5 separate regions of the Homo sapiens genome follow, and regions 2, 3, 4 and 5 are each linked to region 1. The links come from fine-mapping of genetic effects on gene expression. A gene starts in region 1. Each other region holds a variant in brackets. All regions are shown on one strand. Distances are from middle to middle.

Evidence for each region.
Region 2: its variant is fine-mapped to the expression of TBC1D16 in pancreas (GTEx, PIP 0.96).
Region 3: its variant is fine-mapped to the expression of TBC1D16 in tibial nerve (GTEx, PIP above 0.99). The same link has a PIP of 0.9 or more in cerebellum.
Region 4: its variant is fine-mapped to the expression of TBC1D16 in tibial nerve (GTEx, PIP above 0.99).
Region 5: its variant is fine-mapped to the expression of TBC1D16 in lung (TOPMed, PIP above 0.99).

What each region holds. Positions count from the first base shown.
Region 1 is chr17:80,032,948-80,039,221 of GRCh38, forward strand. It overlaps TBC1D16 (TBC1 domain family member 16), which reads right to left and starts at 2,925. Exons shown (of 12, transcript NM_019020.4): 1 at 2,848-2,925. CCDC40 (coiled-coil domain 40 molecular ruler complex subunit) reads left to right here and starts at 3,695. Exons shown (of 20, transcript NM_017950.4): 1 at 3,695-3,744; 2 at 5,176-5,239. The coding sequence starts at 3,716. RefSeq lists a silencer at 2,924-2,993 and enhancers at 3,184-3,303, 4,203-4,497.
Region 2 is chr17:80,938,595-80,944,868 of GRCh38, forward strand. It overlaps RPTOR (regulatory associated protein of MTOR complex 1), which reads left to right. Exons shown (of 34, transcript NM_020761.3): 25 at 1,902-2,007. Among named protein-coding and RNA genes, the nearest start is that of CHMP6, 50 kb to the right of the region's middle. The variant G/A (reference allele first, on the strand shown) is at 3,785.
Region 3 is chr17:79,929,551-79,935,824 of GRCh38, forward strand. It overlaps TBC1D16 (TBC1 domain family member 16), which reads right to left. Exons shown (of 12, transcript NM_019020.4): 12 at 2,793-6,274. Among named protein-coding and RNA genes, the nearest start is that of LINC01979, 6.0 kb to the left of the region's middle. RefSeq lists an enhancer at 1,962-2,181. The variant A/T (reference allele first, on the strand shown) is at 2,775.
Region 4 is chr17:79,948,175-79,954,448 of GRCh38, forward strand. TBC1D16 (TBC1 domain family member 16) reads right to left here. Exons shown (of 12, transcript NM_019020.4): 4 at 4,483-4,644; 5 at 3,276-3,423; 6 at 2,237-2,404; 7 at 1,543-1,691; 8 at 698-832. Among named protein-coding and RNA genes, the nearest start is that of LINC01979, 25 kb to the left of the region's middle. RefSeq lists enhancers at 394-977, 978-1,561, 1,562-2,145, 2,730-3,313, 3,314-3,897 and 1 more. The variant C/T (reference allele first, on the strand shown) is at 2,803.
Region 5 is chr17:80,068,462-80,074,735 of GRCh38, forward strand. The region is part of intron 10 of CCDC40 (coiled-coil domain 40 molecular ruler complex subunit); the gene reads left to right. It overlaps LOC124904074 (a long non-coding RNA gene), which reads right to left and starts at 3,075. Exons shown (of 2, transcript XR_007065931.1): 1 at 2,771-3,075. The variant A/G (reference allele first, on the strand shown) is at 2,406.

The sequences.
Region 1 (6,274 bases):
ATCAGCTCTGCTCCCCATAGCATCCTGCAGGGACCCAGCCCCCGGTCAAGTTGTAAAGATAAGGGTACACATACGCACAAATAGTAAATCCTACATCTGCCTGGAATCACTTTCCACCTCATGGACCACACAAAGGGGAGTGAGGAGTCAAAGCACAAAAACAAAATGTTTTGTGTCAATCTAGTTAAATGTGGAAAATCCAAATAACGGTCATTAATAACAGTGTTAAAATGTTACCATTTGACATTACTTACCACATCCTAAATGGTAACTCAGGATGTGTCAGGAATTCAATGCTTTTCATAATCCTTGCACAAAGTCTCTGAAGTAGGTAGTATAGATGGGGAAATTAAGGCACTGGAGAATTAACTAAGTGCCAGAGGAGTTGGGGTTTTTGTTGTTGTTTTGTTGTTGTTGTTGTTTGGGTTTTTTAGGTTTTTTTTTTAAGCAGAGTCTCACTCTGTCACCCAGGCTAGAATGCAGAGGCTGGTCATGGCTCACTGCAGCCCTGACCTCCCGGGCTCAAGCTATCCTCCCACCTCAGCCACCCAAATAGCTGGGACCATAGGTGCCCACCAGCATGTCCAGCTAATTTGTTCATTTTTTGTAGCGATAGGGTCTCTCTAGGTTGCCTAAGGTGGTCTTGAACTTCTGGGCTCAAGTGATTCTCCCAAAATACAGGATTATAGGTGTGAGCTACTATGCCCAGTCCAGGATTTGTATTTGAAGCCAGCAGTCCATCTTTCTACGCCATGTTCTTAACCACTGCACCTTATTACCCAAAACTGTGGACAGAGACCAGTGCAATTGTAGGTAGGTTCTGCAAACTCAATGGCTTTATCCTGAAGCCTGGGGGATGCTTTCCATACTGAAGTGAACTGAGATTAGCAGCTAGTGGTGACATGGGATTAGTCCCACCTCCTTGCACTGTTATGAACCACTTGGAAGAATGTTTGTATATGAATGGTGGGCACCCTCTGTAAGACAGAGGGCAAAGTTGTACAACGGTTTTCTGGAGCTGGGACGTCCTGGGCCTAAGGCCTAATTCTGTCACTCCTAACTGCATGAGCTTGGGAAGTTACTTCTCTAAGCGTCAGTGTTCCCATCTGTAAATGGGCATAACTGCAGTCCTGACTTCATGAGCTTGTTTTGTGGGTTAAGTGAATTCATGCATGATAATTAGGAACTACTAACGCAATCACCAAAATTGCTAGAGGATTAAATAATTCCACAGATAAAAACTTTTTTTTTCCTTTTTTTTTTTTTTTTTGAGACATAGAATGTTGCTCTATCACCCGGGCTGGGGTGCAGTTGCACATCTTGGCTCACTGCAACCTTCGCCTCCCGAGCTCAAGCGATTCCCCTGTCTCAGCCTCCTGAGTACTGGGATTACAGGCTCACGCCACCACACCGGGCTAATTTTTGTATTTTTAGTAGATATGGGGGGTTTCACCATATTGGCCAGGCTGGTCTCGAACTCCTGACCTCAGGTGATCCGCTCGCCTCGTCCTCCCAAAGTGCTGGGATTACAGCCGTGAGCCACGGCGCCCAGCCATAAAAACTTTCGCCATAAAAACTTTCGTTAGCCATAGTCTCACCATAAACATGCCACTTACAAAAAAATATGCGCACAATAACCACGCTCAGGATGCAAACAACATCCATTAATGAACTTTGTAGTTAATACCAAAAGTTACTCCTCACTTTATTCTTTATTTACAAAAGCTTTCATGGTTCTTAAAAGTGTTTAGTATTCACCAATTTTACTGTTAGCGTTTCTAATGAGGATTTTCTAAAACTGAGGCATGGATTTGAAAAAGTGTTCTGATCAATCAGTAACAGATTTGGAATGGAATCTCCAGCCCCCAGTCTTTGCGCCCACCCTCTGGCAATATGCCGCCTCACGTGAGCATCTTTAAGACGGAGTTCCCTTTTTATTCCAGATAAAAGAATTAGGAGCCTTCTGGTAGAAAAGAAAGCAGATCTTCAGGATCAAGTCGCAGAGGCTGGCCAATCAGCCCAGCTTCTCATTTGAACTTGACCCAGACAGTAAAACAAACTTTACCATAAGGCGAGACTAACTTTTGTTATGTCTTTTCTATTCATTTCCTATTTCTGAATCAAATCTGAACTACTTTGTGGCCAATATACGACACCAGCTTCCGAGTGTGGGAATCACAGGATTTCAGGATTCAGCGGCTTCCGGCAGGATCCCCTAGGTTATGTTTAGCAATCTTCAGTTGCCTTTCCTTTTTTTCTTTCCTTCCTTTCGTTCTTTCTTTCTTTTTCTTTTTTTTTTTTTCCCAAAGGAAAGAACAAGGGAGCCCAGGCGGAACGGAAGTGAGTATCCCGACACGCGGATCTTAAACAGCCCAGACCACCAAGCCCGACAGGCCGGGAAAGCTGAGCGCGCGCTGCTGGGGGGACGCACACTTTGGAGGCTGTGTGGGCGCGCGCCGGCACCCCACAAGTTCTCATCCGTCTGCTCCGCCGATTCAGCCAGACAAAGACCGCAAGTTCCCCGGTCCACCGCTCCAGACAGGCGGGGACCAGTCTCCCCGAATTAGGCCCATTCCGGGCCCGGGCGCCCTCACTCGCCGCGGGGAAAAGTCCCCAGGTGCCCCTCCGTGATCCAGGTCCTCCCACAACGCTCCCGCTCCTGCTGGCGCCCCGCACCCCGAGGACGGCGGCCGGACCCCGGCCCCTCCCCGGTCCCGCGGCTGCAGGCCCACGCGCCCCACGCGCCCCGCGCGCCCCCGCCCCAGCTCCGCCGAGGGGGCGCTGCTCGCTGCGCGGTGGACCCCTCGGACCCCGCCCCCGCGGCCCCGTCCGGGCCCCGATACCCACCCGGGTCCCGCTGCGGGGGCCGGATTCGCGCCGGCTCCGAGAGCCGCCACCGTCGCCTCCGCCGCTGCCGCCGCCAGTGAGGCGCGGCGGGGCGGGGACGCGCGGGGAGGCCCGGCCCCCGGCCCGCCCCCGGGCCCGCCCCCGGCCCGGCCCCTGCCTGCCCCCGCCGGTCTCCCCGCCCACCTTCTGGCCCAGCCCTGGGCCCAAGCCTCTAGTTCCCTGCTGGCCCTCCCTCAGGCCTCGCCGCGTCCCGGCCTCGGGGACTGTGCCCCGTCCCGAGCCTGGCGTCCCCAAAGGAAAGGCAGGGCTCCTCGGACGCTCCGCGTGCGCGCTGGCCCTCCGCTGCCGCCCTCTGCAGGGAGATTTCTCCTATTTCGGACTAGGAAGGGAAGATACGCTCCGGAAGACCCCCCGGGCGTCCATGCAAGGAGTCTCCGTAGGACCCCTGGAGAAGGGCACCGGAGCCCCCTAGGGCAGGAGATGGAAAAGCGCTCGCCATGCGCGGGGTCCCCGGCCCCCGGTGCCCCCAGCCCGCCTGCCATTCCCGGGCGCTTAGCAGTCCGGGGTCCCCAGGTGCCCGGCAGGTCCCTTCGGGACCTCGAGCCGCCCGCTGGGCACACGCTGACGCCGCTGTCGCTTTACAGAAATTGAGCGCAGCCGAGGCGGGACCCGGGCGCAGAGAGCGATAAAGGAAAAGCATGGTCGTGCTCTAATCATTACAGTCTAAGGGACGACACGTCGAGACGGCGCGCGCCTCTGCGTGCGTGGAGATGGCACAAAGGCCGCGCCGCCCCCGGCGGCCCCCGCCCTCGCAGCGCGCGTGGTCCCGGCCCGGCCGGATGTTGACAGCGTCGCCTAGCAACGGGAAATGGCGGAACCGGGCGGCGCGGCGGGCCGGTAAGCCGGGCCGAGGGGCAGCGGGTCTTGGAGTCGCCAGGCCGCGCTCTCCGTTCACCGCTCCAGGTGGCCCCCGCGTCGGCTCCTGCCTCGCCCCTTCGCCTCCACTCCCCCTTCCTCTCGCCTGTGTCCCTTCTCTCGCCATTTTGCTGGCCTTTCCCGTCCACTGCGTTCAGCCCCTCACCCCCCCGCCAACCCTTCTCACTTCTCCCCTCCTGTCCCTTTGTCCTCTCTCGGCCTCCCTCTTTCCCCTACTCCAAGCGCGCGACTCCCTCTAAAACCCGGGACCGCTCACTCTGCAGTCACCATGGCAACCACTCTGCGTGGCGGTCCCTGCGCGCAGTCCTCCTAAGAGTAGAGGGCTCTGCAGGGCGCGGGGCTGTTGGATACCGCCCCTGACCTTGCTCCGGGGCCACTCGCTGTGGCCGGAGACCAGCCCGGCCCCGCGCCTCCCTCCTGCAAGGACAGATCCCCTCTCGCAGGCTTGGGGGTGACCCGCGATGGGAGGGGTCCCTGCGGTTAGGCGGCCCGCGATAGTCCGCGGTCACCGTCCTGGGGCCTGGGTGGAAGCACTGAGCGCGCACAGGGAGGGCGGCTGAGTGAAGATCCCTGCCACCGGGCCTCTGCTCGCTTAGGCTCTGTTTAAAAGGATAGAAACGATTGGAAAGAGTTTGGCCTTTTTACCTTAGACACATCGGTATTGTTTCATTTTTTTAAAGGTGGGTCTGTATGTATTGACATGGAAAGACTAAAGGTATTATTAATAAAACGATAGGCATAAATGTAAAAGGGTAGGTATACTATGATCTCTAATTCAGGGTGTGTGTGTGTGTTTAAAACATAGAAAAATGTTGAAAGAATGTGGTCCTAAATGTTATCAATGATTATCTTGGGAAGGAAAGGGAAGATCACAGGGAACTGTCACTGTCTGTCTCTTTGAACATATCTATATTCCTTTGACAGATAAAAATAGCTTGAATCTTTAATTTTTTAAAAAAGATATACATATATATATATATATATATATATTCCTGTGCTACGTAAATCGTGGAGAAACTCAGAGTCCCCAGAACACTTACTCTGATCGCGCTACTTTCTCTACGTTGTATTTCTTTTCCCCAGTTTTGTCCCAGACACAAGTTATATTTGAGGTGACTTTTCTGGGGTGATCTAATCCTGCTGTTCCTTCGATGTTTTAATAATTATATTTTTCATTCATTCATGGAGCTTTGCTTTTGTGGCATCTCCGCCACCTGACAGGCATGATATAGTGCTATGGTTCCTGACAAACAGGACAAAGACGTGACAACAGCCTGGGGGTGGCAGAGAAGTAACAAGTAAATAAACAGATGTGCAGAATTCAGGAGGGGATAAGGACCAAGAAAAAGAAAGCTGTTGCTTGAAACTGTTCAATTGTTTCTCTAAAACCAGGTCCCATCCGGAAGATGGATCGGCTTCTGAGGGAGAGAAGGAAGGGAATAATGAAAGCCACATGGTAAAATTCCCTATGGGCAGTTATTCCGGGCTTATATTTACTAGGAATTAAAGAGAATCAGAGTACGGGCACTGTGGCTCACGCCTGTAATCCCAACACTTTGGGAGGCCAAGGCAGGTGGATCACATGAGGTTAGGAGTTTGAGACAAGCCTGGCCAACATGGTAAAACCCCATCTCTACTAAAAATATAAAAATTAGCCGGGCGTGGTGGTGCGCACATGTAGTCCCAGCTACTCGGGAGGCTGAGGCAGGACAGTGGCTTGAACTCGGGAGACAGAGGTTGCAGTGAGCCAAGATCACACCATTGCACTCCAGCCTGGGTGACCAGTGAAACTCTATCTCAAAAATAAATAAATAGGCCGGGCACGGTGACTCACGCCTGTAATTCCAGCACTTTGGGAGGCCGAGGCAGGCAGATCACGAGGTCAAAAGATCGAGACTATCCTGGCCAACATGGTGAAACCCTGTCTCTACTAAAAATACAAAAATTTGCCAGGCATGGTGGTTCACGCCTGTAGTCCCAGCTACTCGGGAGGCTGAGGCAGGAGAATGGCTTGAACCTGGGAGATGGAGGTTGCAGTGAGCCGAGATTGTGCCACTGCACTCAGCCTGGCGACAGAGCGAGACTCCATCTCAAAAAATAGATAAATAAAATTAAATTAAAAATAAATAAATAAAGAGAATTAGGACTTGGTCAAGTATATTGTATGATGACATTATCTTGCACCAGAACAAACTCAATTCAGTTGAAGAGAGACTCATTTTCTTCCTACCCCATTCTACAGTGTCAGTGATTAGTCAGGGATGCAAAGGATGTCCAACTTTGGGTTGCCCTGAGTTTTTCGGAACTCATTTCCTGTAACAAAGGATGCAAAAATGATTATGAAAAGCAGAGAGGGCCAGGCATGGTGGCTCACGCCTGTGGTCCCGGCACTTTGGGAGGCTGAGGCGGATGGATCTCTTGAGGCCAGGAATTCAAGACCAGCCTGGCCAACATGGTGAAACCCCATCCCTACTAAAAATGGAAAAATTAA
Region 2 (6,274 bases), 910 kb after region 1:
GGATTATTTCTAAATCAGAAAATGTGCGGAGGGAGCCATTTGACACCTTTTGTGGTTACTGTTTCCGGGTTTGGATGTCTTTTTTGCTGTGTTGTTGCTGTTTTATCGAGTGTGGTTTTGTGACTTTTAAGAAGAAAAAGAAGGAAGCAGAGCAATCAAATGCTAGGAACTGAGCCACAGCCACCCATGAGCACGGGGTCAGACATGAGGTTTGGGGCTTGCCTGTTTCTGTTTTGTAATCAGAGCTGACACAAAGCATTCGAGGAAGAGACACAAAGAATGCTCTGTAAGCATTTGCACATGATAACCACCTACAACGACCGCCTAAAACTCCACACGGAGAAACCGTTTTCTTTCTCCGCCACATTTACGTGCAAGGACGCAAACACGGCCATGCGCCATAGTCTTTATTCCCATTTCTTCTATCAGAGAAAGCGACTTTTTAATAACTAATGCAGGCTCTCTTTTTCCTTTGTCGAGACAGAGTTGCTTTTAGCCAAAAGGAATTAGGGTTCTTACCTTGTTTATTTCATTTATTTTATATTTTGGGTCTTCACAAGTCTTAGTTTCTTAGCAAGGAACAGAATTAGCCAGATTGACTGGACGGCATGTATGCTTAAGGAAATGCATCTGCGTAACCCAGACAAGTGGCCATCCTCCCGCGGAAAGTCAATTAAATCCTAGTTAGTATTTGCCAAGTGTGGACCTCTCCTAGACGCTGAACGTGCACACCCCAACCCACATGTGCGTGCACACACACAGACACATGCACGCACTCGCACACACGCACACACACGCATGCACGCAAAGGCCCTGAAGTGAATGAAGACCTTTGCTCAGGGAAGAGAGGGCAGCAGCATGTCTAGCGTCTGCATATTTCAAGTGAAAATAAACTTGGTCTTTCTGAAGCTGTCTCATTAGGGAAGGCACTGAAGTTCTCACGAGTTAGTTTAACCCCAGCCAGGCTTGCAGCTCAGCACCCTCCTAGCTCTTCCACCATCAGGAGCCCAGTGGCACCCCCTCTGCTGCCCAGGAAGGTCCCACACTCTCTCGGGGCCCGGCCTGGCCTCTCATGAGGCTGTCTTCCTTCTGTCTCGTAAGCTCCCTCATCTTCCAGCCAGCTGCCTGGTTCCCTTTGGCATTAGAGAGAGAATAAAGGCAGTGTCTCCTCAAGCGCACCTGCCTCCTGATTGTGTTTTCAGTGTTTGAAGCGGCATTCGGTGCCCCCCTGCCCTGCTGCTCAGTGCTGACCTCAGTGCCCCCCATTCCCTGGGGAGGCGTTTCCCAAGGCCCTGGTCCCCATCATACACCTGTCAGCCTCACAGGCCACTCACTCAAGGGTCTCAGAGCCCCCACACTAGTGAACACAGGCGTGGAGAGCGCCTCTCCCAGCTCCGGGGAGGGACCAGCGATGTGTTTTGTAGCAGACACAGGACCCACAACAGCCCGTGCCTCTGGTGCACTGGCCAGACGAGAAGCCCAAAGCCTTCAGCCTTTGAGAAAGAGGTGCCTTCATCTGAAAATAACTACAGCCAACCCTCCATGTCCACAGGTGCTGCATCCGCAGATTCAACCAATTTTGGATAAAAAAACAAATGTAAATAACAAAAATAAATTTAAAATAACAATACAACAAGAAACAATCCAAATTTTAAAAATACGGCATAGCAGCTATTTACACAGCGTTGACACTGTGTCGGGTATGGCGGGCAAGCTAGCGAGGGTTTGAGGTGTGCCGGAGGATGTGTTCTGCTTGTACGCAGATGCCACACCCTTTCGTATTGGGGACTGAGCCGCGCAGGTTTTGCTATCCGAGGGGTCCTAGAACCCATACCCCATTGATACCAAGAGACAACCCTGTTTCATCGCTGGGCTTAACTGGGTGTTTTCTGTTGTTGAAGATCCCAGAAGAGCACGACCTGGAGAGTCAGATCCGCAAGGAGCGGGAGTGGCGGTTCCTGCGAAACAGCCGTGTCAGGAGGCAGGCCCAGCAAGTCATTCAGAAGGGTAAGGGCACCCGCACAGCCAGCCAGGGGCTCATTCCGGGGGTGGGGCCTGGGGCGAGGGTCCCCTGTGAGCAGGCCCCCCGCGGCCCACGCACAACCTTCTCCAGCCATCCACTGTCCCACGACAGACCCGCCCCGCACCCCACCTCCCTTGCAGATAAGCACATCAAGGCTGGTGGAGATGAAGCTGCTGCTCCTCAAGGTTCTGCAGCCCAGAGTGGGGAGGGGAGGGGCCGGGTGGGAACCCAGCCACCGCCTGGGAAGAGGGCTCTCCCGGGACCCTGCCTCTTCCTCTGCAAGGGCAGCCCTCAGCCCTCGGGATTATCAGCGCAGGTGGAACTCATGGAGGCGGAACTTTGCATGTTGACATTTCCGGAAGGGAAGGCCTCTGAGAGCCCACATCTCCCCACCCGGACAGGTGTCGTTGCGCCAGGCCCTACACATGGCGCATCCTTCCCTGGAAACAGGAAGTGAAAATGCCAGGCCCTGCTTTCCTCAGCTGGCCTCCACTTGTCCCTGAAATGGTGGCCAGCTCTGTCACCCCACATCTCAGTCATGATTTTCCTAAACCTTCTCCCAGATTTGCCACTAGATGCCAAATCGCTCCCTTCACCTACCTTGTTGTTTGCTCTCCCAGCTGCACCCGGGGTGGAGGGGCAGGGAGCAGCCCTGGAGGGGGCGGTGTCTGTTGCCGCAGACAGCGGAGGGAGCTCCTTGCGGAAGGGATCCAGGCTGCAGGCGGCCCCGGTCACAGAGACTGTGTGGGGAGCAGGGAGGCCCTGAGAGTCAACACAGCAATGAGGGTGTCAGGCAGCCCCATCCCAGGGACCCTGGCCTCTCCCCAGGATCCAGGAGAGTACAGGGGCCCAGGCCCAGCCCTACAGCCCCACTGAGGGCACGGAGCAGCAGTGGTGTCTCCGCACTCCTCCCCCTGCCCTCGCGGCCACAGGCTCCCACCACTGAGCCAGCTCTGGCTGGGGGACCTCAAGCTGCCCCCAACCAAATCAGCACCATCAAAAGTCAAGGACTCTGACCCCAGTCTGCAGGTTTATTGTTTTGACCTTGCATCTTTGTCCTGTAAAATTCTGGAGATTATTATGGGTTACTTTCTGAAGTTGAGGTTGATGACCCGTAGGACAGATGTCCTCCCTCCTGCCAAAGCCGAGGGCCCTGCCCGCAGGCAGCACAGGCGCCATGAGCGCGTCCTCAGCGAGCGTGCCTAGGCCCGGCTCACACCTCTGCTCTGCTGATCACCGAAAACACTGCTGACTTCTGGTACCAGCAACGTTTCTGAAGCGCATTCCCACGCAGCTCTCTCTGTGAAAGACTGCGGTTCATCTCGCATTAACGCAGACGGTGGCTGTTGTGCTGAAAGCTAATTGTGGTTGTTTGTAGCCCTCTGTGCATCTGAAGAGCTGGCGGCAGACCAGGTTTAAAGCATCGCATGTTGCAATCCGGTGCGTGCTGCCCCGGCGGCCGCCGCTGAACCTTGCAGCCAGGGTGGCTTTCTCCAGCAGAGAGAACAGACCCTGCTGGATGAGCGTCTCCAGGTGGCGGCGACAGGAGGCTGTTTTCCTGGAGGTTAGCGATTCTCTAGGACCCCAGCCTGCTAGCTGGGATGGCCAGCACACGGGGGCTGCCTGCTGCCTGAGACAGGCTTGGGAGCTGAGTCTGCCTCACACAGTTCAACATCTGAAGATGAGCTGGCCCCTGATGGCCAAGGTGATGCTCTGGCCTGGAGCCTGTGGTCAGAATTGAGCAGGGTGCGAAACAGAGCC[G/A]GCATTCGAGACCCAAAACCGAGATTTCTAGACCAAAAAAAAGAATATATTTGTAAACCAGAGTTTGTCCAGACACACAAAGGAGGAGCTGCTGAGCCGCTGGAGACACCACCAAATGAGGCCTCAAGACACAGGGGATGGTGCCAGCAGGCGTGGTGCCAGCAGGCGTAGTGCCGGGAGTCACTGAGGAGTGAGGCCGCGCCCTCCTCCCAGTCCTCTGTCCTCGGAATTCGGATTCGGTGCAGGCGTTTATTTTCATTTAAGGAGCCAACTGTGTGCTGGGAAAGATGTGAGCATTGAGAAAAAGGAGGAATTGATGCCTGTAGATGGAAGAGAACCAGAGAAGTCGGCGTCGCCCAGGAGACGGGGTTGGGAAAGCCCTGTGTCACGCAGGCCCCTGCCCGGCTCTTCAGCCTTCTCCTGGGCAACATTCACGACCTTGGCTGTCACGCACTGATTTTCAAACGTACCAAATGCGTGGGCTGGGTGGGGTTTCCCTTTGTCCTTCAGTGCTTAGAATTATGCCCAAACTCCGTCCAGAACTCCCTGCAGCTGGGAATGGAGGCACCACTAGGGTAACACGGTGCTGCCGCCGCACCAAAGCCTTCGGGCCTGCCTGCCTCTGTGAGTGCAGCCTCTCCTTGTATAACGTGGCATTCATTTCCTTTCCGTGGTTCTGGGTGTTTGCTGGGGACTGACATTGTTGGAAACAGTAGCTCACCCGAGGTGCCGAGCACACACCAGGCATCAGTGAGGCTTCAGCCCGCAGACTCCGTGGCCCTGGTGCCACCTGGACAGTGCCAGGCACAAGCGGAGGGGCTGTCAGCTGCTGGAGGTGGGCGGCTTTGGCTGTGCTTAAGCCCAGTTCAGAGCAGCCTGCAGCAGAGTGCCCAAGTCGCGCGGCTTTGACCTTGCACCCCGACGGTAGGCTCCTTCTGTTGTAGGACTTTTTAATTCAGCTAAAAACAGGGTCTTTGTCACATGACCATGAAAAATTAGGCTCCCAGACACTTTGAAGGGTGGGAAGGGCAGGGTTTATTGGGTGAGAAGGAAAAAACGGGAAACAGGGCCTCCCCGCAAAGCCGGAGTCCTGCTGGTGCACTTCCCGCCTCGCAGATTGGATCCCAGGTTCTACCCCAGATCGGGAGGCTGGGCTCCTCCTGCTGCAAAGGGCGCCAACTTCTGTGGCTCCCCCCGTTGTCCCAGTGTGCAGGCTGGTGGGAGTTTCTCTGGGGACCCCTTTATACTTGGCTATCTCACTTCCTGCCAGAGCACAAGCCCACCACTCCCCACAGGGAAGACTGGAGGCGGGCAACGGTCCTCTGAGCCAGACCAGAAGTTCAGGTGAGGACACGGTTAGTAAGAGCCAGTCAGGTGAGGACACGGTTAGTAAGAGCCAGTCAGGTGAGGACACGGTTAGTAAGAGCCAGTCAGGTGAGGACACGGTTAGTAAGAGCCAGGCGGTGTCTCTCTGCACCACCTGGAGCTATGTCTCTGGCTGAGGAAGGCTTGGGGGTCCCCAAGACACCCTCCTGGTTGCCCAGAGGCCACACAGGTGACCGCAGCCAAGGCCAGGAGGCAGCCCAGCTTGTGTCCTTGGTGCCACAACAGACAATGAGGCTTATGCACCCACAGATCCCCAGCTGCCCTTTCAGTCACCAGGATGTGTTGGAATCCATCTTGCGCCCTCTGCATTTTTAGCTTCCTTTTATGGTTCCTTCTAGAAAAAAGCCTTTTAGAGTCACAAGGGACTTACTTCCTAGTGCTCGTGTTTGGGGGCCTGGTGGTTAAGTCCACGTTCCCCTCTTCTGTTAAATCTGTGATTCTGTAATAGATCCCTCAGTCAAGGAAGTTCATAGTTACCATTCTAGACTGAAAGACCCCCGGACTTTGGCTGCAATGTGGATCCTGGCGACCACACCCATGTCTCCTCCTTAAGTCTGTTACGAATCAGAGCCCTACCGAGCTTATTCTGAAACTTTAGCACTTTCTTCATATAATCTGACCCAGATAAATTTGTACAAACCTGACCACTGCTGACAAGTATTGGCTGAATGCTTCCACATGTCCAGCTCGGCATCAGGAGCTTTGGGGGTTTTGAGCAAAGGCATTAACCCTGCGGCCAGGGCCCCTGGGCCCTCATTCTGGGTACTCAGTGGCTGCCGTCACCCCAAGAGCCCAGATGTGCCTGCTCCTCAGCAGGTGGTCAGGCCCCTCCCTTCAGTCCCTGCTTTTCTTCTGCTTCCTTTGTGCCTCTCCAAGTCCCCAAGGTATTGACGTCGGCCATGATAAGATACGTCGTGAATATTTATTGTAAATTAAGACTGGCTTGCCGGGCATGGTGGCTCACTTCTGTAATCCCAGCACTTTGAGAAGCCAAGGTGGATGGATCACTTGAGGTCAGGAGTTTGAGACCAGCCTGGCCAACATGGTGAAACCCCGTCTCTACTAAAAATACAAAAATTAGCTGGGCGTGGTGGCGGATGCCTG
Region 3 (6,274 bases), 100 kb before region 1:
GAGGGTGGGCTGGACAGGGACAGACAGGGGCTGGCGGCTGAGGGTGAGGGTGGAGGGAGTGGTGCGGTGTCCCGGCTACAGGCGGGCTCTAGGGCTGGGCTGGGTGAGGGCTTGGGCAGGGTGGGTGGAAGGCTCAGAGGGGCCTGGGGCCAGGGCCCGGTGGGTCCTTCGCTGCCCTGGTTGGGGTGGGGTGGGTCACTGCAGGGAATTACAGCAAGTGGGAGGCTCCAGGAGGTGGGGAGTTTCCTCCGACTTTTGGGACTCTGAGGCTCGGCCTCCTCTTGCACGTTCTCCAGCCTCCTCGTCACCGCCACCAGGTTACTACCTTTACCCGACGCACACCTGACGTGGCTGGATGACTGGGCCCGGGGGCTGCTGCCCCTTCTCGCACCCCGCCCCTCCCCTCCCCTCCCCTCTCCTCTCCCCTCCCCTCCCCTCCCCTCCCCTCTCCTCTCCTCCCCTCCCCTCTCCTCTCCTCCCCTCCCCTCCTCTCCCCTCCTCTCCCCTCCTCTCTTCTCCTCTCCTCTCCTTCTGTGCCCGTCTCCAGCCCTCTCCCGTTCTGCGCGCCCCTCCTTCCCCGACTTGGGCAGAACCGCACGCAGCGGCTCGGAGGCCAGGCGTGTGCCGGGCGGGATCGCGCGCCCGCTGGGGTGAAATCAAAAGAAAAGCAACAAAGCCCCTTCCGCGGAAAATGGGGTGGATGTGAGCGGCGCCGGCCTCTTCCTGCTGGAATGGGAATTAGCGGCGAGGATTATTTTGAGGACGCGAGGTCCCTTTGTGCCCAAATGCGCCTCCTCCTGCCCGGCTCGGTGGGGTTCGCGGCGCACGGACCCCGCCCCCAAGGCCTCAGGTGGGCCGGGGGCTCCGGGAGGCCTCCGCCGCCCTCCGTCCCAGGAGAGCAGTTCCCGGTGAGAAGCCCGGGCTCTGCAGACACCCCACAGCAGTTCTGCGTCTCGGAAAACGCGGCGCCTTCATCAGGACCGCACGAAGGAGGGGGTGGGGAGGCGGGTCCAGCCTCGCGAGGAGCCGGCCGGGGTCTGGGGGGCCGTGGCAGAGGGGAGTCCCGCTTTCTGTCTAAGCCTCCCTGTGCCAAGTAGGCCCGAACCCCACCTTTGGAACCTGCTTTCTAGAAAGGACAGCACCCCAGGGGGCCCGTGCCGTGGGCATGGCAGCCTCTCAGGTCGTGGGGAGGGGAGGGGACACTTTGGGGAAGCCACAGGGGGTCTCTAGGTATCTCTGGGATGCTTTCTGGTGGGGTGTTTCCTCTAATCAAAACCATCGTGGGCCAGATTCTGGGGAGCTGGCAGCCCCCCCACACAAACAGACCTTGGTGTCCTGGATCAGCTTCAGGTACCTGATGGGGTGAGAGGATCGGTGCAGAGGCTCAGAGGCCAGGCCAGTTTGGTGACCCATCAGCTGAATTTCAGACTCCGGGTCCCCAGCCCCTTCAGAGACACTGGGACCGCTTTGGGGCTGCCCTGAAGGCTCCAGAGGGTGGAGGGGAAGGGCATGGTGCTTTTGCTAACACTCTCACGTCCCCTGGGAGCAGGTGGGTGGCCACCCTGAGGCCACTGCACGGGGGAAGGGACAGAGAGAGGTGGGGTGGGGGAGGCGGAGGGGAAGCTGCAACCAGCTCCCGTGGGGCAGGGGGTCGGCGGGGGTTTGTCCCTGCTGTGGGCACCTGGAGCGACACCTGTGGGGGCAGCTCCTCATCTGACCTGCACTAACACTAATCTTTAGTCAGCTCCAGGGACTCACCCACCCTGAAAGACCCCATCCTCAACCCTATCAATAGCTCTAGTTGCATTTCCGGCAAAATCTGCAAGAGCTCGGTTCTTTGTCTAACCCTCCAGGGAAACAAACAGTTCACCTCCCCTGGAATGTCCTCATCCCCTTCCCGGGGTCCCAACACCCTCCCCAGCCCCCACCCTACTCCATCTCAGGCTGGCTGCCTCTGACCCTAAAAGTCCAATTCTGTTTGTCTGCCGGGTTGGGGCACTCATCTGTGGCCCAGCCAGGCAGAAAGACAGAGAACCGGGGGAAACTCCCGTCTACATGAATCATGGGGCAGAACCTGGGGATTTATCCAACAACCAAGAGGGCGCCTGGACTTTGAAGAAAGGCAGCACTTGCCCAGAGGAGACTGTTTCAGGAGCTAGACCCCACCCTGCTCTTGGGGTGGGTGGTGGCATTTCCCAGGGGGCACCTGGGCTCTTGCCTAGTGGTCTGGGGTCCCTGGTACTTTATTTCTAAAGTTGTCCACATCAGCAGGAGGTGAGTGGAATAGACAGTGGAGGCCAGGTACCTGGAAACTGCTCCAGGGGCTGTGGTGGGAGGGTGACCCAGGTGCCACCCACCTGAGATGTGGTCATGGTTGGTTTTGTCTGAGCTGGTTGTTTGCTTGCAGAGAGGGAACCCAAAGGTCACACCAGAAAGCAGGCTTCCAGTGCAGTGAAGGCGAGGGCTGGAAAGCCGCACCCACCCCCGCACCCACCCCTGCACTTGTGTAGTCCTCACGTGTCCTCTACATCCTGGGCCAGAGGGAGAGGCCCCTTCAGCAGCGGCTCTCCCAACAAAGAGGAAGGCCCCCACCAAGAGCACGCACTCAGAACCCCAGAGTTCTAGGAGGCAGAATGGATGGCACCAAGAGGTCAGCGGTCTAGAGTGGGTCTCCCAGAGCCCGCCCCGTGGCAGCACCTCATGTGACCACTGGCGCCTTTGCCCAGGTTCTCCACACTGGAAAAGTGGAGAATGGCTAGATGGTGCCCCCTCCA[A/T]TAATCCACAAACCTGGGTGACACTTATTATCCTTCAGTCTTTATTTTAAATAAGGCCCCTGTCCTTTACCCTCCCAAAGTACTTTTAGACATTTTCCTTCTGCCCAGAATCCTCTGCCCGGTCCCCTGTAGCTAGTGTCCAGACACTGGTCACAGACCTCCACTGAGCCCAGTTAGAGCGCTGACCTCCCATCTCAGGACTTCTTGGCCCTTGCCCATTGCCATACTCTACTGTCAGATTTTAAAACTGCTAGACCATGTGCCAATTCACATTGACTTGTAGCCACTAGGACCCTGTGTCTTTTTCTATTGTGCTTGTTCATGGCCAGGAATCAACGAACTTTGGACAGACAATCAGTAGACTTTGGGTGTGGCCTTGGTGAAGGCTTCCCACTTTGGTGACTTGCATGTGCCCCTCTTTGTTGAGGGGGTTTTGAAGCAGCTTCTGCGTCATTGGGAGCTGGCTGCTGCGCCCAGCCTGAGGCCCTGGACCCCTTTTGCACCATCCTAATTTCAACATCCAGATGTCAATTCAGAAAATTATTATATCATTCTAATGACTCAAAACATAAAATCCCCTCTTTTGTCTCATGTTGAAGAGCTGATGACATCGGACCTATCAGGTCAGACTTATTTTCCTAGTCAGAGACTGAATGGCATATTTTCAAAGCACTTCGTCTAAATTGCATGGCACACACCCCAGGAGCCCAAAGATCTGGTTGTTCTCTTGAGATGCAGAGAGGAGGCCCACAGGTGGCGGAGGGGTGAAGGAGGAGGAGCCACCACTTCCGAAGCATCAGAATGTCAAAATCTAAGTTTTCCACGAGGTCAGCAGCAGGTGTCTCCTGGTCTGGAGAGGGCATGGAAGTGGCCACAGGTCTGGACTTCTCTGGGTGGATGTGAGGGAGGGTGATTGAACTGGAGGAGGGGGCTGGCTTGAGACCTTCCTGTTCTATGTTGGGGGGGATACTGAGGGTCCGTCTCACTGGGACGAAGAGGGGGCACAGATGCAGGTATGCCCAGGTACCTGAGTCCCAGCCAAAGCGGCAAAGCCAGACCTCCCGGGATTCCTTGAGTTTGGACAAAGGGTGTCCCGACGACGATAAAGAGCCAGGAGCAGAGAGCCCTGCATCTTGCCTGGGGCCCCTTGTATCTCTGGCTCATGGCCTGTCCTGGGCACGGGGAGGAAGGGAGACACCCGTAATAATAACAGAGACCGCACTGGACTATGGGGGATCACAATGGGTTTCAGTTTGATTGAGAGAAAATAAGGTAAGGGACACGTGCTCGCCTGAGTCTCTGGAGTAAGAGTCACGCCTTGGAGAAGGAGGGCAGCCAAAGGCCACGCAGAAATTGGGGGTTCAAGGTTTGCCCAGCCGGCCCCAAAGGTGTGGGGGTCCACATGGCCTCACCCAGGGGCCAGTGGGGTGGCTTTGCTCATTTGAGGGTGTGCAGGGTACATATGTGTCTGCCCCGGGAATCCAAGTAGCCCCAGTGCGCTCCTGCCTTGCTTCCCTAGAGCGAGCCCACGGTACCATAGTCCTCGTGGGATGAATGCATGAATGATGTGGAAGGAGCCAGAACAGGGCTGCAGACAGGATGCTCTCTCATAGAAGGACCCCAGAGAACTTCCCCTCTGGAGCCTGTGCGGCTGGTTGAGTGTAAACGCTGAGTCATGCTCGCTGCCCAGCTGTGTGGCAAGGGCACTCCCTAGGCACTGAGCAGCCACCGCCAGCCCTGAGGGCTGCGGGACAACAGAGAGCCGGGCCTGCCCGAGGCACGGCCCCTGAAAAGTGTGGCCCGCCAGGTGGCACCTATGTTCTCTTGCCCGGCGTGGGTGACTACACAGTTGTCATTTACGGGGGAAGTAGGGCACAGCAGAGGTGAACATGAGGATGATGCTGCGTCTGGGCTGTATCCAGGGAACCAGCTGCCGGACAAATTGGAAGGGACCTTCTTGGCAGGACAGGTCCAGTTGGTGGCCTGAGGTGGGGTTGTGGTGGGCCTTGTCCCCCTGCAGGGCTGACCCGTGCAGGTGGGATCATCCTTCCTGAGGAGCTGCCCTGCCCAGTCCCGTTGCCTTGGAGGCGGTGACATCAGGGGCCCCTGAGCCACCAGGTTCCTCCATCTTCATGTGGCCACCACGGCTGTTGCAGAGTCCACGGTAAGAGCCAGGACGTGGCTTCCAGGCAGGATGGGGAAGCACCTCCCACTCCCACATGGACAAAGATTTCTTTAAACGGAGCCACCAGCCATGCCTGGTAGTGGGTGCCCTCCCTAGGCAGGCAGTGCTGGCTCTGCTCTTTCCTGGGGGAAGCCCACTGCTCCTCCTGGGGCCTAGTCCGTGGGACCTGCCCAGCCAGCCTTGGGAGGGGCACCCCTGGGCATGTGGAGAGGAGGTGATGAGGCGCTCAGATGTCGAGGCCAAGGCCAGGTAGGTGGCAGGTGAGACAGGCCCTTCAGACATGAGACCCGAGTGATGTAGATAAGAGGTATGTTCCCCTCCAGCCCCCGCCCCCAGGCAAAAGGGGAAAAGACACACAGAGAACAACAGAAAACAGTTGGAAACCCCAAAGGGCGCTTGATGAAGAGCTGGAGCTCCCCGCCCCCCGTGCTCCGGGAGGACCAGGAGACCTGCTCCATGGGCCAAACCGCCTTTGCCCATCCCTCCCCTGACCCCTGCTGCACGGTTCCAAGGGCTTGGTAGGGCAGCCTGAATTTTCCCTAACTCCCACTCCTAGGAAGGTCAAATTCACCTTGTTTGCCTCCTTAAAAATTCACAAATGCAGGACTGAGGCTTTTCCTGAAACCAGAGCCCCGGCAGCCAAGGCTCAATAAAATACTGTTTGTGTTTCCAGGCACTGGGGTGGGAGCGAGGCTCCCAGTTGCTCAGAGTTAACCGGCCCTTTCCCGAGTGAGACCCCGCGAGCACTCGTCAATTCTCCCATCACCCTCCATCGCCGCCTGCTGGGGGGGCCTGAGGTCCGGAGCTGCTCTTCCTCCTGGCAGCCCAGCCTGCAGGCCTAGTGCTGTCCAACCACAGCCCAGAGGGCAAGGCCTCCCAAAGTGGGCGCTTGCTGAGCCCCTGGCCAGCCTCCCAGGACCCTCAGTCCCCACAGCCCCCATCCAGCTCTCTTTTACACCTTCCCCTCCCCCATCTCAGAACATGGGAGAAGCCGGGCACACTGGCGTCTGCAGGCTGCCCTTGGGCTGCCACGGGGCCCTGTTTGCCCAGCACAGAGCCTGCCGTGCTTTGACCCAGCAAGTCCCACCGCACCTTCCAGAGGCACTGTACAGCGTGCATCTGTTGTCAGTACAGTTTTATTTGCTGTGGAATCCATGAGAGCCGGAAGCATCGTTGGGGCCGTGGCTAGCAGAGCTCATGGTGACCAGTCCTGGGCCTGACCAATGGGTGATTACATTTAAAAACCAAAACAAAACAAAACAAAATACCAAGAACAGATCACTTGCCATGGACATCAGTAATCTATTGGTAATGG
Region 4 (6,274 bases), 85 kb before region 1:
GTGGGGTGCACGCCTGTAATCTCAGCTACTTGGGAGGCTGAGACTGGAGAATCGCTTGAACCCGGAAAGCGGAAGTTGCAGTGAGCCGAGATCACACCACTGCACTCCAGTCTGGATGACAGAGCGAGACTCCGTCTCAAAAAAAAAAAAAAAAGTAATGGCCTGCTATTAGCTGCTGTCTAGGCCCAGAATCTTGAGAGCAGGGGTTAAGGGGGAACATGGCTCTGATTTTCTGAAGGGTGGACTGCCTGTGACAAGGGGTGGGCTGGCAGGGACATTTCTGTGGGCTGCTAATTTTGTGCAATTATTTGCTAGGCTGTAGCAGAATGTCACAGATGCCAGCCTCTGGCTCTGTGTGGCTGTATGACTACGGGACCACCCACGGGGAGATGGAGGGGGTGCATGGGGAAGCTGGTCCATGGTTAGTGTGAGCCAAGCAAGGACAGGCTTGGTGGTGCCCAGGGGATAGAGGGGCTCTGTGGGCAGGGACCTGGGTGGCTTCCCTGGGATGCCATGGCTCTGAGATGCCAACTGACGTAGCTCATGAGTAGCGTATCCTTCACTTCTGGGGCTTTGATGTATGAACCTGGAAGAGAGCCCCTGCAGAAACTCGCTGGGGGCTCATCCACTTCCCAGAGCGGTCAGGTGAGGCTTGCAGACTTGCAGATGGGAAAGGAGCTGGCTGGGGAGGGAGTACCTCATGCTCTCCACATTGGGATTGTCTTCCCCCCGGAAGAACTGGTTGTTCCGATCTGTCCGGACCACGTCTTTGTCCACAGTGAACTGCACATTACGCCAGAACGCTCTGTGCTCCTCGGGAGTCATGGAGAGCCTGTGTGGAGCCGAGCACCCAGCCGGGGTCAGCGGGTGGCACCCAGAGGCATCGTGTGGCGCACACACTGCAGGAAGCCACCCTTCCTCCCAACCCCCGTTCCCTGGACGGGAGCTGGGCGGCTGCTGCCGGCTGCAGACCCTCCCCGGATGCGGCGGATGGGTGGCGTGTATCCAAGGCTCTCCTTGATATTAACTCAGCCTCACAGTCTCCAGCGTCCCAGGAAGGAGAGCAAGTTGCAGCCCAGTGGGTAATGAGGCCTTGGCCCTGGCCCAGCGTTCTGGAGGGGAGCTGAGCACAGCCCAGGGGCTTCACCCAGTCCCAGCCTCCTGGAGAGAGAGCTGAGCCCAGTCCCGGGTTAGCAGATCCCAAGTGGGACACAGTCTCCGGATGCCTTCACCCCTCCAGGCCCTGCTCCCAGCCCCAGCCTTCAGCTGTGGGACGTCAGCGCCTAGTTAAGTCTGTTGAACGAGAATTCTAAAACCTTGACATGTGAGCTAACGAGCCCCGCAGCTCCGAGGCCCGAGTGCTTGGTTTAATGACTGCACTTATCCCACCCTATCACTCACGTTCCTGGGAGACCCATTTTTGAAAGAAACTATGGGTCACGAAACATATTATCAATGCTGAATTGCACCTCAAATTGCCTTTTCAAATGACATTTTCCTCCGCGGCTCGGCGGGGTGGGCCGGGCTGGCCCCGGCGGTTACCTTTTCTGCTGGATCTCAGAGTACTCCTTTCGCTTCTGCAGCCGCAGCGCCTCCCGCTCCTCCGACGTGGACTCGTGGCTGTAATAGCGCAGCAGGAAGGGCCAGACCTCCCCGCGGATTGACACATCAATACCGCCAAAGAAAATGGCCTGGAGGAAGCGGCAAAAGTTGGGGAGGGGATAAAATGGGGCAGCTCAAAGAACCCCCAAATCCCCAGAGATGTGTGTTTTGGTGGTTTTTGGTGCGCCTTGATTCAGATCTCTGCAATTTGCACATATTTACAAGGGGAAAGCAGTGGCCTTCAATTCCCATACAGGACACAAACCCGGCTCATTTCAATGTCAATGCCCCCCCTGGGGTGGCGCTCAGATTAACGTGTCGTTCTCACGTCATGGCCTAATCCCTGGTTTTGGAAATGCTGCATTTCACTGCAAACCCTTCTATGCAGGCTGACACGGTATCCCCCCAAACCCTCGAGGGAGGTGTTGTGTTTTGTTTTTTTTTTTCAACGCAGCAGCTTTGATTGCTTTATCGGTGTGTTCACAGAGAGCCTCACACAAGAAAACGGGGCCCTCACGAGGAGGTGGCCCGTGGGTGCGGGCGGGCGGCCAGGCCCCGGCCCTCCTTCCCTCTCGCTCGTTCCCGGTTCCCGGCCGGCTCTCCGCGGGGCCAGCTGGGCGGACCCGGACCTCACCTTCCGCAGCTTGTACTCCTCCTCCACCTGGCCCAGCTCATTCAGGTGGTTGAGCCAGGCGGAGACGCCGAGCCTCTTGTACATGCTCTCCTCGGGGTGCGTCTCGGAGGACGGCAGCTTGGGGCGGCGGATGGAGAACTGCATGCATGTCTTATCGGGGGCGACCTGCTGGACGGGAGGAAAACTGGGCAAAGGTCAGGATCTCAGCCGCGCGGCTTCAGAGGCCAGCAGTGCTTTTCCCAGGAATAAAAGCCTCTCTCTCTTCTGAAAGGAGGGCAAGGGCCGTCCCCTGCATACAAACCCCTAAATGGCGAGTGTAATTAGGCGCAATTAAAATGAAAATACCTTCATCTTAAAATCGGTTTCCCTCTGCGGCTCTCTCCTCCCCGGCCCACTGTGCCGCCGCCCCCCACTCTCTCCAACCCCAGCCGCAAAAACGGAATGAATGCCTCGTTCGGCCTAACTTCCCTCTGCCGGGAGGGCCTGCAATGAATTACATGTGATTGGCCACATACAAAGGGATCGCTGTTCTGCGAGCAGGGAGCCAGCCTGTCAGATTGCCTCCG[C/T]GAGCAGTCACGAATCCAGGGCAAAACTGCAGCTGACATTTAATTCAAAAATCAAAGGTTGTTCAATGTAGGGGGAAAAAAAGCCATGCTACTGTAATAAGGGAAGCCAGCAGGAGGCTCTGCGGGAAGGAAGGGAATTTTAAAATCGGCCCCATTTCTAATAAGCACATACAGTACCTTAAACAGATAATTAAAGAGCTCTTATTACATTTGTACGTAGATTGAGCAAAATATGGCAGGAAGTCTTGTCAAAACATGATTTTTCAAGTGCAGGGCACTGACTTTACCGAAAGCCCTGGGCAAAGGTTTCAAACCCAAAGTTGCTGCTCTGACGGCCAAAAACTACCGTGGGTCACACCCCGTAAGCCCCCGGGGCCCGGGGACCCCAGACACAGGACCCAGGAGGGAGATGGGGCCCGTGGGGGGTGGGGAGTGTCAACCGCTGGGCATTCTGGGGCCGTCTGCTGGGCTACCTGGTCTTTGAGCTGCATCTCGGTGCAGTATTTCCACTGCTGGAACACGTCAGACAGCTTGTCCAGGCCGCCGTGGTGGAAGTGGAAAACCTTGTACTGGCTCTCTCGGCTGGCAACGACCAGCTGGCCGCTGGTGCAGGCCTCGTCGCTGAAGGGCCATTGGAAGGGGGAGAGGGAAGCCCGATGAATATGTAAACACGGGGGTTTTATTTCCAAGTATAATCAGAGGCCACTGTCGCCAACCTCAGAAGCAGGAAACAGTGAGTCCCAGTGGAGTTGGCTGCTAGCGGGAGGGGACAGAACTACACCGAACAAAAACCACCACCCCCTTTGCCGAAGATGGCAAAACTGCTCCTTCCTGGGGGGCCCTGGAGCTCCTCTCTGGAGACCTGCCAGAGTGGCCTTCTCCCCACCACCCCCTGCCCGGCAACATGGTCCCTGCAGTCCGGGAGACCTGGGTCCCAACGCTGAGTGCCCTGGAATCCAGTTCTGAGCCCTGGCAGGCCATGTGCTAAGAGAACCTCCTGGGAACAGACCTCCTTCGTTGCGTGTGGGTGGAACTCTGGGAGAACCCTCCAGGGAAACTCAGTAAACATCCGTCAGTGCTGTCAGCCCAGCCCCGGCTGCCCTTAGATGAAAGGCTGGAATGTGGCTCTGGGTCTGGGAACCCCCCCAGCTTCTGGACACGCCGGCTTCTTCTAAGCCCGGGCCTCTCATTGGTGATGTCTGCGGCTGGGCAGCCCTGACTATAAGGAGGAGGATCTGGTGTGGGGAATGACTGCAGGAAACTAGGCATCGCCCACCCATCACGAAAGGAAGGGAGCCTCCATCCGGAAAGCTGCGGCCCGTCCCGCACAGGTGGCCGAGCTCCAGAGCATCCCCCGGCGATCAGAGCCGCCGGCAGCTGCTACCCTCTGCCCTGGTTTGGTTTCTTCTCCCAAGCCAGAGTTGCAAGCAACCGCTGGCTACCATCACGCTGAAGGTAGGGGAGTGAGTTCGGTAGCTCACCCAGCCTGAGAACTGTCAGGGAGCTGCAGTGGGGAATCACTGCCCACAAGATCAGCGAGGGAGGAAAGCAGACGCTTGGGAAGACTCCATCCAGGGCCCTGTGTCCCCAAGCCGTGCACTGCACCGGCTGCAAAGCCCAGGCTGCCAGGGAAAACACACACAGGCCAACTCCCAGGAGGCGCCCAGAGATGCTTCCTACCTGAAGAAAAGGCGGAGGGAGCGCATGTGGCCCAGGTCCACGCGGAACACGCCGCAAATCTGCTCCAGGGCGCACACCCGCTGCGGCTCGTCCCAGCGTGGGGTCTGCAGGAGGCCGTTGCTGTCCGGGAACCGCAGGCCGGCGTCGGAGCTGGACGGGGGGCTGGTGGAACAGGTTATGTGATGATCGCCACACTTCTCCCTGCCCACACTACCCAGAGGGGGACGGGGGTCATGGGGGAGTCATTTAAACCTACGCACCAAGCTTAAACACACATACAGGCACGGCTGAATATGCCCTGTAAACACCTGTGAATAAATGAATGTATGAACCCCACTGCACAGTTCTACTTCCACTTGGATGGGAAAGCATTTTCATGATCAAATTCCATTCCACTTCAATAGAGGCAGTAAGTCATCATCGTCCTGACAGCCAAGGTCACACTGACTGGGGTTCCTCGCTGTGTGACCTTGGCCAAGCCACCAAGCCTCTCTCAGCCTTCGTTTTCCCATGGATAAAGAAGGCAGGAGAATAACAAGGCTGGGTTTCCCTACAGCGTGGGGCTGGGCTTTACTAAAACTGGTTGTTTTGGGATGATTTTAGATAGCATGGGGCTTCCGCGTGGTTTAAACCAGCTCACTGTATTCCTGAAAAGTACTGGTTCAGTTTATGCTTTTGGTTAGGAAACATTTGGGTTCTCAGTACTATTAATAACATCATCAGCATTTATTAAAACACTGACTATGGGCCTGGCCCTGAGCTAATGCTTCTCAGGTGCTTTTATTGCAATTAATCTTCACAAAAATCCTCTGAAATGAATAGTGGTATTACCCCATTGTAAAGAAGAGGCAACTGGGGCCCAGAGAGGTTAAGTAATTTGCCCAAGGTCACACAGCTGGCAAGTGGTAGAGCTGAGATTAGAACCCAAGCTTTGTGGCCCATGTTCTCACCAGCATACTGTGCAGCTGTCTGCAGTTCAGCAGTACAACCCCATTTATTCTGTTATTTTTTATGAGTTTGTTACATTCCAAATTGCAAAATATCTTATTATATGGATTCAGCCACCTCACAGGTTAAATCTTGTCTCTTGAGATTTTTTCTTTTTTTCTTTTTTCTTTTTTTTTTCTTTTTTTGAGACGGAGTCTCGCTCTGTCACCCAGGCTGGAGTGCAGTGTGCGATCTCGGCTCACTGCCACTTCTGCCTTCCGGGTTCAAGCGATTCTCCTGCCTCAGCCTCCTGAGTAGCTGAGATTACAGACGTCCACCACCATGACCAGCTAATTCTATATATTTAGTAGAGACGAGGTTTCACCATGTTGACCAGGCTAGTCTTGACCTCCTGACCTCAGGTGATCCACCCGCCTCAGCCTCCAAAAGTGTTGGGATTACAGGCGTGAGCCATCGCGCCTGACACTCTCTTGAGATTTAATGTCTAGCAAATGTCTGCTAAAATAAAACCGGAGTACAGGCAAGACTCAGCTCTGGACCCCAACTGCAGCACCCCACAGAGACTCAGCCGCATTCACCGCACCTGCCTTCCCGTTTGAGCTCAGAACATAAACTATTAGAGGCAATCAATCCAGAGGCACTTCCTCCTCCAAGAAGCACCAGGTCTAAGTAAATAAAGCTCCTTTGGAGGGTTCCAGCACAATCCCTCCCCACTGGGAACTTCACACAGAGAAACCTGACTGGCCTTTCTAGAGCCCTCTACTGCGTCAGGCATAGCCCTGGGCCTGGTGAGTGGCAGGTGGCCTTTCTTCCCCACCTGCCTAAGGAAGTCAGCCGAACAGGT
Region 5 (6,274 bases), 36 kb after region 1:
TATTACAGAAATAAATTATTGCATAGCTTAGGACTTCCAAGCTAGGAGTGCAGTGACTGAACTATACCTCAAATATTGACCTTGAGATGTTCAGATTTGTAGAGCATCTTAGAAAATGGTGACATTCCTGGCTGATGGTCAGGATGGTGCATACCAGGCCGGTACCCTGGTGGCTGTCTGGGCATTTCTGGAGCCTTCACCCTGCGAGATCCCCATGGGGCAGGACCCCCTGGCCCAGAAGCTTGGTTTTGCCATCACACCGAGAAGGCACACTTGTCCTGGAGTTAGTTTACATGAATCGAGCTCACCAGAGCCTGACGTGTAACTGAGTATAATAGCCCATTTATGTGCATGATGAAATATAAACACCAAAGAACCGAATGCTCCACGCTCGGACTAGCAGATTCTTATCTGTGGGGGAGGACACAGGAGCGGATGACACAGACCCCTGCTCAGGGACCGGCTAGAGGGCGGAATGCCTGGGCCCCGGCCCTGTCTGCTTCCTGCTTCTTCCCCGAAGTTCATGGCCTGTCCGTCCACATGGGCGGGAGGTGTCCCGCGAGCAGCCCTCACCCTGACCTTGGCTGCTTTCTCCATTCCATTCCCCACCCCTCCTCCCTCCTGACACCCATGGCATTTTTTCAGATAAGTTAATACCTTTGATTAGGTTCCAGCCAAACCTCACCCTTTCTCTTTCCCCATGCCTTTGTGTCTCTCTTCGTCTGATGTCGAGTCTACAACCTAATGCTTTGAAGACAGACTGACTTCCCCGTCCTTGGTCAGGGGGTTGCTGCTGCGTGGGGGGGGCGGTAACCATAATCTTGCCCCCGTGTCTCATACACAAGCTGCAAGCTTAGCTCAGAAGCTGTGCCTGTCTTGGCTGCTTTTTCTTGCTGTCTTCCCTATTTTTGCAGGAGTTTTGCACACGGTCATAAAAGTTCAGGAGAAACATGAAACGTGTTATTCTGTTTCCTGTTTAAGTCGACCTGAGGAAGCTGAAGGGGTCAGGCGCGGTGGCTCACGCCTGTAATCCCAGCTCTTTGGGAGGCCGAGGCGGGCAGATCACGAGCTCAGGAGCTGGAGATTGAAACCATCTTGGCTAACATGGTGAAACCCCGTCTCTACTAAAAATACAAAAAAACAGCCAGACCTGGTGGCGGGCACCTGTGGTCCCAGCTACTCAGGAGGCTGAGGCAGGAGAATCGCCTGAACCCGGGAGGTGGAGGTGGCGGTGAAGCAAGATGGTGCCACTGCACTCCAGCCTGGGTGACAGAGCGAGACTTCGTCTCAAAAAAATAAGAAAGAAAAAGAAAAAAAAGAGAGAGAGAGAGACAGAGAGAGAGAGAGAAAAAAAGAAAGAAAGAAAAGAAAAGAAAACTGAGGGCTTGCCCTAATCTCCTAGACTTCCTTTTCCCTCAGTCCTGATGATGGCAGAGACGACTCCTCAAAGGCTCTTCCCCTTGGCATGGAGTGCTGGAGCCTGCCCTAGGGAGGGAGGACAGGATGGAGCAAGACACTGAACGCAGAATTAGAGCTAGGCAACGAGCGGGTGATTTCACTGTTTCCTGGGTAACAAGCCCCAGGCTCAGCTCGGTCTGGTGTAGCCCCTCAAAGGGGACACTGTCCTTGCCCCCAGTTGATGGAGGAGGAAGGAGCGGAAGGCAGTGTGGGATGGGTTGGGTGTGGGCATTGCCACAGTGTCCCCAGCAGGCCTCCTTCTAGCCTGGGGATCTGGCAGGTGGGTCCCAGTCACCACCAATGCCCCATATACCCAAGGACACTGGTGACCCAGCAGACCTGAGGCCACAGACCAAAGACAGAGTAACAACCCCATTAAAAATGTGCCCCCATGGGCGGGCATAGTGGCTCCTGCCTGTAATCACAGTGCTTTGGGAGACTGAGGCAAGAGGATCCCTTAAGCCCAGGAGTTCAAGACCAGCCCGGGCAACATAGTAAAGTAAGACCTTGTCTCTAAAATAAAATATAAAAAATAGCCAGGTGTGGTGGTGTGTGCCTGTGGTCTCATCTACTTGGGAGGCAGAAGCAGGATGATCACTTGAGTCCAGGAATTTGAGGCTGCAGTGAACTGTGATTGCACGAATGCACTCCAGCCTGGGCAACAGAGCAAGACCCTGTCTCTCAAAAAATTTTTAATTAGCGGGGCATGGTGGTGTGCACCTGTAGACCTGTAGTCCCACCTACTCGGGAGGCTGGGTGGGAGGATTGCTTGAGCCCAGGAGGTCGAGGCTGCAGTGAGCCGAGATGGTGCCACTGCACTCCAGCCTGGGCAACAGAGCCAGAGCCTGTCTCAAAAAAATAAAAAAGTGTCCCCAGACACAGGGGCATGGGTGAGGCCTGTCAGGACTGCTGTGGTAGCTCATGGTGTCCTGTCCCTTCTTCCCACC[A/G]GGGAATGACCGTGGCTGTGGGCACACCCCCTGTCCATCTGGGCCTGCCTGTGGGAGCTGGACACTGCCCTCCCCAGCAGCCAGAAGTCCTGAAGGAACCGTGTGTGACCCTCAAGACCAGACCGGGCCTGCCACACCAACCCTTCAAAGACCGCAGCGGTCCAGGCAATCCAACGTGGGTCCCAAAGCTAGGTGAATAACCACGAGGAGCCCACGGTCAGCCCCTTCCCATCACATACGCAGGGAAATGGGTCACTTTCACTTTCAGAAAACAAAGCCTGGACCGCACTTAACTTGGAGGCAGATAACCTAATCAGAATTCACACACGCCTGGGACTTGGAGCCAAAAGCACCCGTGCTCTTACCTGCCTTTGTCCTATTTCCTGGCGGGAAATACAGAGGGCAGACAGGTCTTGGCCCGCAGCCACAGCCCCTTTACCCCAAGATGTGACTCGGTCAGCCACACGGCCTCACAGCCTCCTCCCAGGCCCTCAGCTGTGGCCACGGCAGCCAGGCAGGCCGACCCAAGGACAAAAGCCACGGGCAGTGTCCTGGGAGAGAACCCGGCCTTGACCACAGGCTGCTGGACACCTCCTGTGTCCCCCCCTTAATCCTCAGAGGCACGGTGCCCAATGCCTGGGCCATATTCCAGATTCCATCCGTTCTTTTTGTTTCATTTACAGACAGTCCCCGACGTCACGATTTTTGGACTTTACCATGGTATTAAAGCAACAGGCAGGCAACAGAAACTGGGCTTTGAGTCCCACACAACCTCCCTGGTTTTCAGCACGGTATTCAATAAATTACATGGATGCCCCACACTTTATTATCAAACAGGCTTCGTGTGAGATGATTTTGCCCACCTGTAGGCTCATGGGAGTGTCCTGAGCACGTTTGAGGGAGGCTGGGCTGAGCCGGGGTGCCTGGCAGGAAATCTGCAGGAAGTGCATTTTGGGTTTTTCAGCTTTTTTTTTTTTTTTTTTTTTTGAGATGAAGTTTCACTCTTGTCGCCCAGGCTGGAGTGCAATGGTGCGATCTCAGCTCACTGCAACCTCCACCTCCTGGGTTCAAGTGATTCTCCTGCCTCAGCCTCTCAGGTAGCTGGGATTACAGACATGCACCACCACCATGCCCGGCTGATTTTGTATTTTTAAAAGAGACGGGGTTTCACCATGTTGGCCAGGCTGGTCTTGAACTCCTGGCCTCAGGTGATCTGCCCCCACTTGGCCTCTGAAAGTGCTGGGAATTACAGGCGTGAGCCACGGCACCAGCCTGCATTTTGGACTTAGGATATTTTCAACTTACGATGGGTTTGCCGGGCTGCATCCCCACCGTAAGCTGAGGAGAACCTGTACTTTCTATTGGTGCCTGCTGATCTACGGAGTTTTTAAAGTACGATTTAAAAAAATAATAATCCTTATCAAGGATAAGTGATTGCGTTACAGGACATTTGAAAAACAGAGAAAAGGATTTAAAAATACCATCGACTTTCTCTTTTTGTGACAAGAAGACTCATTAGCATGTCAGCACACTCTCAGGCACACATTTCCCCGAGTGTTAGGAGTTCTGTTGCACAGTTTGTAACTGTATCTTTTTAAATTGGGCATCTTATTTTTATTGTCAAATTTAGACATTTATAAGGCTGCTCCTTCCTAAAAAAAGAAAATGAGTAACTTATTTACTTGAAGTCAGGATGACTGGGGATAATTTATGTACAAAATTGCATACCTCCAGCCCTGGCAACCGCTGTGCCGCCTTCTGTGCCTATAGCTCTGCCATTTCTAGAATGTCATATAAATGGAATCGCGCAGTCTGTAGCTTTTCTTGTCTGGCTTCTTCCACTTGGCATCATGCTTTTGAGACCCACCCATGTTGCAAGATCAGTAGTCTGTTCCTTTTTATTGTTGAATAGTATTCCCTTGCACGGATACATCAGATGTATTTGTCCATCCACCAACTGATGGACATTTGGCTTTTACCTTTGGAATACCGTGAAGAAAGCTGCTGTGGCTGTCCTGAAAAGATCTTTGCATGGAGACGTGTTTCCGTTTCTCCCGGGTAAATACAGGCGCATCTCGTTTCAGTGTGCCTCGCTTTCTCCTACTGCGTGGAATCGCTTTTGTTTGTTTGTTTGTTTGTTTGTTTGTTTGTTTTTGAGATGAGTTTCACTCTGTCACCCAGGCTGGAGTGCAGTGGGGCGATCTTGGCTCACTGCAACCTCCACCTCCCGGGTTCAAGCAATTCTCCTGCTTCAGCCTCCAGAGTAGCTGGGATTACAGGCACATGCCACCATGCCCTGCTAATTTTTTGTATTTTTTAGTAGAGACGGGGTTTCACTGTGTTAGCCAGGATGATCTCGATCTCCTGACCTCATGATCCACCCGCCTCAGCCTCCCAAAGTGCTGGGATTACAGGAATCGCATTTTTTACAAATTGAAGGTTGACGGCAGCTCCGTGTGGAGCAAGTCCACCGGCACCATCTCTCCAGCGGTGCGTGCTCACTTCCTGCCTCTGCACCACATGTTGGTCGTTCTCATAATATTTCAAACTTTTTCATTGTCATCGTCCGTTATGGTGATCTGTGATGAGTGACCTTTGATGTTAACTATTGTAATTGGTTTTTGGCAAAGCCACGAACTGCCCTTGTTTAAGACAGCAAACTGAATCAAGACATGTCGTGTGTGTACTGACTGCTCGCCGGCTGGCGTTCTTCCATTTCTGTCCCTCTCCTTGGGCCTCCCTATTCTCCAAGACTCAACAGTATTGAAATTAGGCCTACAATGGCCACTAAGTGCTCAAGTGAAAGGAAGAGTCTCATGCCTCTCACTTTATTTTTATTTTATTTATTTATTTTTGAGACACTCTGTCCCCCAGGCTGGAGGGCAGTGGCACGATCTTGGCTCATTGCAACCTCTACCTCCCGGGTTCAAGCGATTCTCCTGCCCCAGCCTCCCGAGTGGCTGAGATTGCAGGTGCCTGCCACCGTGCCCGGCTAATTTTTGTATGTTAGTAGAGACAGGGTTTCACCATGTTGGTCTCGAACTCCTGACGTCAAATGATCTGCCTGCCTCGGCCTCCCAAAGTGCCGGGATTACAAGTGTGAGCCAACGCTCCTGGCCGCCTCTCACTTTAAATCAAAAGTTAGAAATGATTAAGCTTCATGAGGAAGGCATGTCAAAAGCTGAGATAAGCCAAAAGCTAGGCCTCTTGCACCAAAGGGATAGCCAAGTTGTGAACACAAAGGAAAAGTTTTTGAAGAAAATTTAAAGTGCTGCTCTAATGAACACACAAAAGAAAGGGAAGCAGCCTAATTGCGCGTCTGGAGAAAGTTCAGGTGGTATGGACAGAAGATCAAACCTTCCGGCCGGGCGCGGTGGCTCACGCCTGTAATCCCAGCACTTTGGAAGGCCCAGGCAGGCGGATCACGAGGTCAGGAGATCAAGACCATCCTGGCTAACACGGTGAAACCCCGTCTCTACTAAAAATACAAAAAGTTATCCAGGCATGGCGGCAGGTGCTGAGGCAGGAGAATCACTTGAACCCAGGAGGCGGAGGTTGCAGTGAGCCGAGATCGCGCCACTGCACTCCAGCCTGGGCAACAGAGCGAGACTCTGTCTCAAAAAAGAGAATGCACCTGGTGGGCATGCTAGCTCAAGTAATCTCAGCACTTTGGGAGGGCAAGGTGAGAGAATTGCTTGAGGCCAGGAGTTCTAGACCAGCCTGGGCAACATAGCAAGAGCCTGTCTCTAAAACCGAAAAAAGGAAAGAAAGAAAATGTACCTGGTCACCCAAGAGTTTTGATGGAGCTGGAGCTGTGCAAGATGAATGTTGTTTCCACACCTGTAACACAGCATTTATTCTGCAACCCA